Homo sapiens: one gene and its partner. The protein of the gene in region 1 interacts with the protein of each later gene in a pairwise test. Each region holds a gene or a part of one and is shown in the gene's direction. Other genes may lie near its edges.

Region 1 (3,825 bases):
AAACAAAACTGATACTCTACATTCTCGTTTGAATCTTTTTTAAGAGCACTTGTTTCTATAGGAAAAGCGTCATCAAGATCGTGCTCTGGCCATCTACAAACAAGTACTCAGAAATGATGCAAAGAATCTGTATGCTGCCAATGGCATAGGTGATTATAAGACTTGAGTACCCATAACAATTTGTTTCAAATGAATACTTTCAGAGGAATGTTTGTAAATCAGAATTTTTCTTAAAATGTGATCAATGTAGTTGTTTTAAAATAGAATTTTTAGTTGTTTTTCTGACTCCAATTAGAAAATTGTTAAGTGTGAACCTTTTTATATCTTTAGGAGCTGTTTTGGCCCACAAAGGATATTTTCGTGAAGCTCGTGATGTATTTGCCCAAGTAAGAGAAGCAACAGCAGATATTAGTGATGTGTGGCTGAACTTAGCACACATCTATGTGGAGCAAAAGCAGTACATCAGCGCCGTTCAGATGGTAATAGCTTCTCTTTCAAGATATTTTTATATCTTGTTCATTGTTAAGCAGATGTTTTCTTAGCCATTCTGGCCCTGTCATGGAGCTGCATGCTATCTCTTGTGATACTGTGTCTATTTAGAGATTTATAATTATATAATGCTAAGGCCAGGCTTTGGTATCCAGACAGAGATGTGAGTCCTGGTTCCACCACTAATTACATGCCTCAGGCAAAGGACATCCTTTCTGAGCCAGTTTTCCTATCTATAAAATGGAGATAATTGTACCTTAACTTCATAGAATTTTGTGAGGATCCCGTATGAAAACTACTTGGCACTAGCATGCCTAGCATATTAGTAATACCCAGTAAGTAGTAGGATTGAATATTTATTTGTGTATTCAGTTTCTGAAACTGAACTGTGAGTTTTAGAAAGGTTAAATGACTTATTTAAAAGAAAACAGGCCAGGCATGGTGGCTTACTCCTGTAATCCCAGCACTTTGGGAGGCTGAGGCGGCTGAGGCGGATGGATCACGAGGTCAGGAGTTCGAGACCAGCCTGGCCAACATGGTGAAACCCTGTCTCTACTAAAAATACAAAAATTAGCTGGGCATGGTAGCACGTGCCTGTAATCCCAGCTTACTCAGGAAGCTGAAACAGGAGAATTGCTTGAACCTGGGAGGCAGAGGTTGCAGTAAGCCAAGATCCTGCCACTGCACTCTAGCCTGGGCGACAAAGCCAGACTCTGTCTCGGGAAAAAAAAGAAAAAAGAAAACAAAACAGCGATAAGATTTAATGACTGTAGAATTTTTTTATGCTTACATTTGTTGAGTGCTTGAGCTCGAAATAAAAGTCATACTCAGCATCCATAAAATTAAAAAGTAAAAAGGATCTTCGGCTCTGTGGGATATATTATGGTCAGAAAGGAAAAGCTTACAAAAAGTAGACAAAAAGAGCAGTCCAGGCTCCTGAGAAGTGGTTTACCTTTTTCTAAAATGGGTGGGTTATTACCAATATTCAGAGTACTGGAAAGTCAATAATCACAGAAACTCACAGAACCTAGATTGCATATGGAGCTTCAGAGGTTGTGTTTTGTGAGGCTGGCCTTCCTGATCTGCTGAATGATAATGTTGTCTTTTATAAATGCAAATTAACTACTAGGGATATTCAGGAAAAAATGGTCTTAACCATTTTTCATGAAAAAGGTCTTACCTATGACAAGAGGTATTCCATGGTCAAAAAGTGCTATGTTCATGTCACAATTAACACTAGTATTGTATTGGTTTTACCAAGAAGTTAACAACCAGAACTGTAAGACTCCTCATGCTCATTGCCAGTAGGTTCTGCCCATTGTTAAGAAAGGTGTAGATGGTAAAACGCAAAGGACAACGGTGTATGACTTCTCATCAGTGGTCAATAAGCTGATTCTAGATAGTATTGCTAAAAGTATGAAAAAGGCTTTCCAGTCTGTTTACCCTTTCTTTCAATGTTGGTCCAAATTTCAAATGGAAAGAAACCATTTCAAGCATCTAGTTTTTCTAATGGTCAGATTTTTTATGTTGTGAAAATGTATCCTGATGAATGTCAAAAATCATTCCCCAAATTATTCTCTGAAATTAACCATTCAAAGGGTAAAACACCTTTTTACAGAGCTTTAAAATTGCAATGCCATTTTGCTACAAAATGAAAATGTCATTTATTCTTTGTTGTGTTTTAATTAACTTTTTTCTTTTACTGTAGTATGAAAACTGCCTCCGAAAGTTCTATAAGCACCAAAACACTGAAGTTGTACTCTATTTGGCCCGGGCCCTCTTCAAGTGTGGCAAGTTACAGGAATGCAAACAGACTTTGCTGAAGGTAAAAAGGAGAGATGTTATTCCCATCCATTTCTGTGCTACATTGTATTTTTTAATTCTTCGTGATGCGTGTTCACATACCTACTACTTAATAATACTCTGCTGTCTAAGATCCTTTTCATGTCATTTGAACATATGAAATATTTATTTTTTATTCACAGGCTAGACATGTGGCACCCAGTGATACAGTTCTTATGTTTAATGTGGCCTTGGTCCTGCAAAGATTAGCTACCTCTGTCCTGAAAGATGAAAAAAGTAATCTGAAGGAAGTACTTAATGCTGTGAAAGAACTGGAGCTTGCACATAGGTAAAGATTTTGTAGAAACAACCTATGAAATGCTTTATTTGGTCTATGACCATACCATCTTGAACTCTCCCGATTTTGTCTGAAATGCTTTGTTTAAAGCTATTTGTCTCAAGCTGCTGAAAATCACTTCCTTCTAAAGGTGGTCTATTAGAATCATTCCAGCAATAGTTAAGCCAAAGCAGATAGCAGCTGCCACCAGGTGGTGCCAAACTATAGTCAGGATCCTGCCAGATTTGGATCTTGTAGCTTGACCTCTAGAACTGGCTGGCTAGCTTTGCAAACTTGCCATAGATTTTTTATTAATCTGACAGTAATGTGACCCAGCATTTTACACATGTGAAATTTTTTGGACACTTACGTTGGTCTTCCATTTTACACCAATGTGTCTTTTAATGGGATGTTGATTTTCATTGAACTAGGATTAAGGTTTTACTTCTTAAATAATGCTTAATAGTTTTATTCAGTTCAGCTCAAAATTTATTTAGCCATATAGTATTTATATGGTGAGTCAGTGTGTGGTGAAATTAAAACCTGTCATCTCTTCAGGTTTTGTCCAACTTAATATTTTTATTCTTGTTTAACAATTCTTGCCTTGCCTGGTAAATTATAAGTGCTTTCATGGCCTGAGCCCCGTAACCTCCATCCTGACATATTTAGTAAATTTCATGTTTAGTAAATACTTGTTGCTTGAATTGCTTTGTGGTTATTTGTGAATTTACTGATAATATTAAATATAACTTAGACCATCTTGATGAACGTGTCTATTAAATGTAATGAGTGGCATAAATTTGTGTAAATCAGTCAATATGCAAACCTTTTCTCAGACTTTGTAGCACAGATTAAATTTTTTAAGAGCTTTATTTCATTAGAATCTCTTTTTTTAAAAGTGAAGTATTTTCTCGTTTCATTTAGATACTTCAGTTATTTGAGTAAAGTGGGAGATAAAATGAGATTTGATTTGGCCCTTGCTGCTACAGAAGCCAGGTAATGTTACTATTTATGGAAGGTGACTTTGGGTGAGGCAGTGATATTTACATGGGCTGGGAAAGTGCCACAGTAGGGAACAGAGGTTCCTGACCTTCCACAGGTCAGTCTTTCACACTTCTCTTGGGGACTCTCTAATCTTTGCCAGGACTTTTTCCTTTCAGGGAATTGGACAAAATTGCCTTAGTACAAGTACTTGAGTTCTGGGGGAAAATACTTTT
Region 2 (3,825 bases), on another chromosome or scaffold:
TTATTTTGAGGTATCTGGGACAAGTCAACATAATCTTTTACCAGTTCTTGGGGTCCTGAAAGGTTTTAAAATGGCCTTGATAATGATGAGCTGTAAAAATTAAACATCCTCCTCCCCCCGCCCCAAACAACTGAACTGAACTGTACTAAACTGAACTAAGGCAGGGTTTTTGGCTGCTACTTTGTTCAAGTTCAGGTAAGTAGAAGATATCTCATGTCTAGGTCTGAAAACAGCCAATGAAAGAGTTGCTGGAAATCATTCCAGGCAGTTATTTTTAAAAATGGTTTTAAGTACAGACAGGTATCACTTAATGATGGAAATACATTCTGAGAAATGCATCAGTAAGTAATTTCTTCCTTGTGTGAACACCCTGGAGTGTACTTACACAAACCATGAGCCTGCTACACCGTTAGGCTATATGGTGTAGCCTATTGCTCCTAGGCTACTAACCTGCACAGCATGCTACTGTACTAAATACTGTAGGCAATCCTAACCACAATGGTATTGAATGTATATGAACAGATCTAAACATAGAAGAGGTACAGCAAAAGTACAGTATCATAATCTTGGGGGACCACTGTCTTATATTGGTCCCTCAAGCAAAACATGATTACACAGTGCATGATTGTATAGGAAAGTATCTTTCTAAAACCCTTCACACCCCTGTGTGTGTGTGTGTGTGTATGTATATTATATATATGTGTGTAAGAAATATGTATATATTTCCTCCTCCTCTTGGAGAAGCCTGGTGTTTGTCTTTGTTCCTTCACACTGGCTATAACAGGGTTTCACTGTGATTCTCTTAGATTGAGTGTTTCTGTGGCATTTCACACAAGAACACAGTTTTAGGAGAGCTTTCTCTCTTTGGCCATCTGCCTCATCCCAGGAAACCAAAGCGCTGGCACATTAGCTCAGGGAAATTGCCCATGTCCAGTGAAGAGATGGTCCTGTCTACGTAGGCAGGTTCACTTAACCTTAAAACAGTATCCAATAAGTGATTTATGCCCAGCCTACCTCAGTCTTAGCTAAGTGATCCTTCAAGCTCCCAGAACTTAACATCTACCTGTGTGTGGATGCCTCCCACAGCCCATTCAGGGACTGAGGCCCTGGCTGAGAAGGTATTAGAAGGTTCCACATGCTTGGCAAATCTGATGCGTTTCCCCTAAATCCTGGAGCGAGTTGCTTTCCACCCTTCTTCCCTGGTTCATTTTGACTCTTTTCGCTTACTTAAAAAAAAAAGTCAATAATGTCTAAGCTTATAACAAAAATGACTGGATTCCATTTTGTGTTTCAAAGATTTGAATTACATTAAGCATCCAAAATATATCCAAATGGAAAAATGTTCATTAATAAATCATTTCTGTCTTCCTGAATAATGTAGTTGTAAAATTTAACAACTTGTAAGAAATATCTTGTAAAATGTACCTGGTTTTCCTTTTGAATATTCAAAAGCCTAATTTTAAAGAACTATTTGACATTTTAGTTTTTCATGTCTTTTGTTTTTTTGTCTTGCTCTGTTGGCAGGCCGGTGTGCAGTGGCGCAGTCTCTGCTCACTGCAACCGTCACCTCCCCAGTTCAAGCGATTCTCCTGCCTCAGCCTCCTGAGTAGCTGGGACTACAGGCACGTGCCACCATGCCCAGCTACTTTTTGTATTTTTAGTAGAGACGGGGTTTCACCATGTTGGCCAGGATGGTCTCGATCTCTTGACCTCATGATCCACCTGCCTCGTCCTCCCAAAGTGCTGGGATTACAGGCATGAGCCACCATACCTGGCCTTTAGTTTTTCATGTTCTGTAAGATTCTTTTAGGAATGATAGTGTGAGTGTTTTACATATGGTAAATATATTTCATTTTATCATAATTTAGGTGTGAATTTCCAGAAGGAAAGATGGGTAACGATTATATTAATTTAAGGTAATATTTAAGTTACAGAGGTTTTTCTTACTTGTGTTTTTTTAATAGAAAAAGTAGATTTTATATCTAGTTAGCTATCCATATTTAAAGTAAATATTTTAGGAATAATAAAAATGTTAATGTTAAACAAGTTTGCTGAGTTCCTATTTATCATAAAGCTTAAGTTTTGCCTTTGAAATCTCATTTTTTAGCCATCCATTTTAGATACATTGAAGGCTGCATTCCCATTTTCTTTTCATTCACACATCCACTTCAATAATTGACTTCAGTGCTTTCCAAGTTATGTGTGGTGAGGGATCAGTTTTTATTTTTTTAATTTCCAGTCCTTCAAACGAACACTTTTATAGTACAGACAAATTACTAGGCAAATGAAATTTTAAAAAGACTTAGAAAATATAAGCCCAATTTTAAAAATTATTTAAACAAGTGTAAACTAGAAACTCTGTCAAATTGCTGTGAAAAGTTTCTAAGTACTAATTTCTTCACAGACTCGTACCCAACAGTTGGTGAAGGGTCCCCAGTCCTCAGACACACTTTACCTGGCACAGTTCTGGTGGAAGCCATGCAAGACTGTTGTTGTGGTACATGATGATTTTACTCCATTTGGCTGGAGGTTATTTCAGGAGTGTAATTTCTTTTTTATATAAAATATTCATATTATATCAAAACCACATGACTTTTTTTAAAAAGACAGAAGTGTTTTTTTTCCAGCTCTGCTTTGCATGCCCATGTGCCCTGTAACTCCTTCCGCTGTCTCCCCCCGTGTGACACTGAGATGTAAAGATAGCATGGTGTTTAAAAGTGGCATAAGATAGGCATGAGTGTCTGTAAGCGCACTGTCATATTTACAAGCAGCAGTTGAGATGTGGAAGTGGAATTAAGTAATTAGGGATAGCTGTGTTGTGAGTGAAAGTATTTAAAAATATGATCAGTGCACATTTAAGGCAACGGAGCCAGTCAGGTCAAATAACAACTAGGATGAAACTATCAGTTTTCTTTGCAAACATCCACTGGCTTTGATTTTACCCAGATGGTAAAAATATATTATCAAGATAGTTGTTATGATAAAGGGAAATGTATCCTTTCTTTTCTCTTGGTGCCTCAGATCTACAGGCCATGAAGAAATAGAAGTCTCTACATTCAGATGGATAGGAGGCATTATATTTTTATCAGTGTTAGGAATATACCGTAGATATTTTACATTAAAACTGAAGTCACAGAGATGATTCAAATTCTTCTTCATAAAGAAGTGAGTGTTTACTTGAACATCGTTAACATTTTGATGAAGGGTCATTGACAAAGAAGCCATACACATTCGCTGTGTCAACTCCTCACTTCAGACTATTCATGAGGCACATAATCTTTTTTTTTCCTGCATAGTTGTGGAATATGAATACATTAAGGGGAATTTAATGGTTTATGATCCATGTCACTGTTTGATGGTGATGTTGAATGTTTGTTCTCTGGTGTCATAAGGCAGCATACGTATACAATAGCTTAGAAAAGGGGAAGAAATTATTTGTTTCTCTGCCACCCTCACCTGTAGCAGTTTTAGTTTAAAACCTTTTATTTACCCTTCTTAGTTTATTTTCTGTCCATATAACTGAAAATTATTGTTTGTTAAGAAAGAGATAGATGTATGGTGTCAAAGGCAGATGGCAGACTTCGGGGTTAATGTCATTGTTATTGTAATTGTCTGTTTATTCCAAAACATTTACCTTTTTTTAAGACTTTATTTTTTAGAGCAGTTTTAGAACATTTACTTTTTATGAGTTTTTATTAATACTTGCCTGTGGTTGACAAATCAGTGGTGTGATTAGAACCAAGATCTGTCCTATTTATACCCGGAGACAAACTCTTCTAAATAATTCTTGCTTAGTTCTTTCATATTTCTCTCTATTATTACTAA

Evidence for each region.
Region 2: the proteins of CTR9 (region 1) and SMAD9 interact in a two-hybrid assay, tested with the Homo sapiens proteins (one large-scale study listed by BioGRID and IntAct).

Annotation. Positions count from the first base shown.
Region 1 is NC_000011.10:10,768,013-10,771,837, forward strand, and holds part of CTR9 (RNA polymerase-associated protein CTR9 homolog), read left to right. Parts: intron 1-61; coding exon 62-149; intron 150-330; coding exon 331-479; intron 480-2,197; coding exon 2,198-2,314; intron 2,315-2,474; coding exon 2,475-2,620; intron 2,621-3,532; coding exon 3,533-3,604; intron 3,605-3,825. UniProt on the Homo sapiens protein: Component of the PAF1 complex (PAF1C) which has multiple functions during transcription by RNA polymerase II and is implicated in regulation of development and maintenance of embryonic stem cell pluripotency.
Region 2 is NC_000013.11:36,875,034-36,878,858, reverse strand, and holds part of SMAD9 (mothers against decapentaplegic homolog 9), read left to right. Parts: intron 1-3,825. UniProt on the Homo sapiens protein: Transcriptional modulator activated by BMP (bone morphogenetic proteins) type 1 receptor kinase. SMAD9 is a receptor-regulated SMAD (R-SMAD).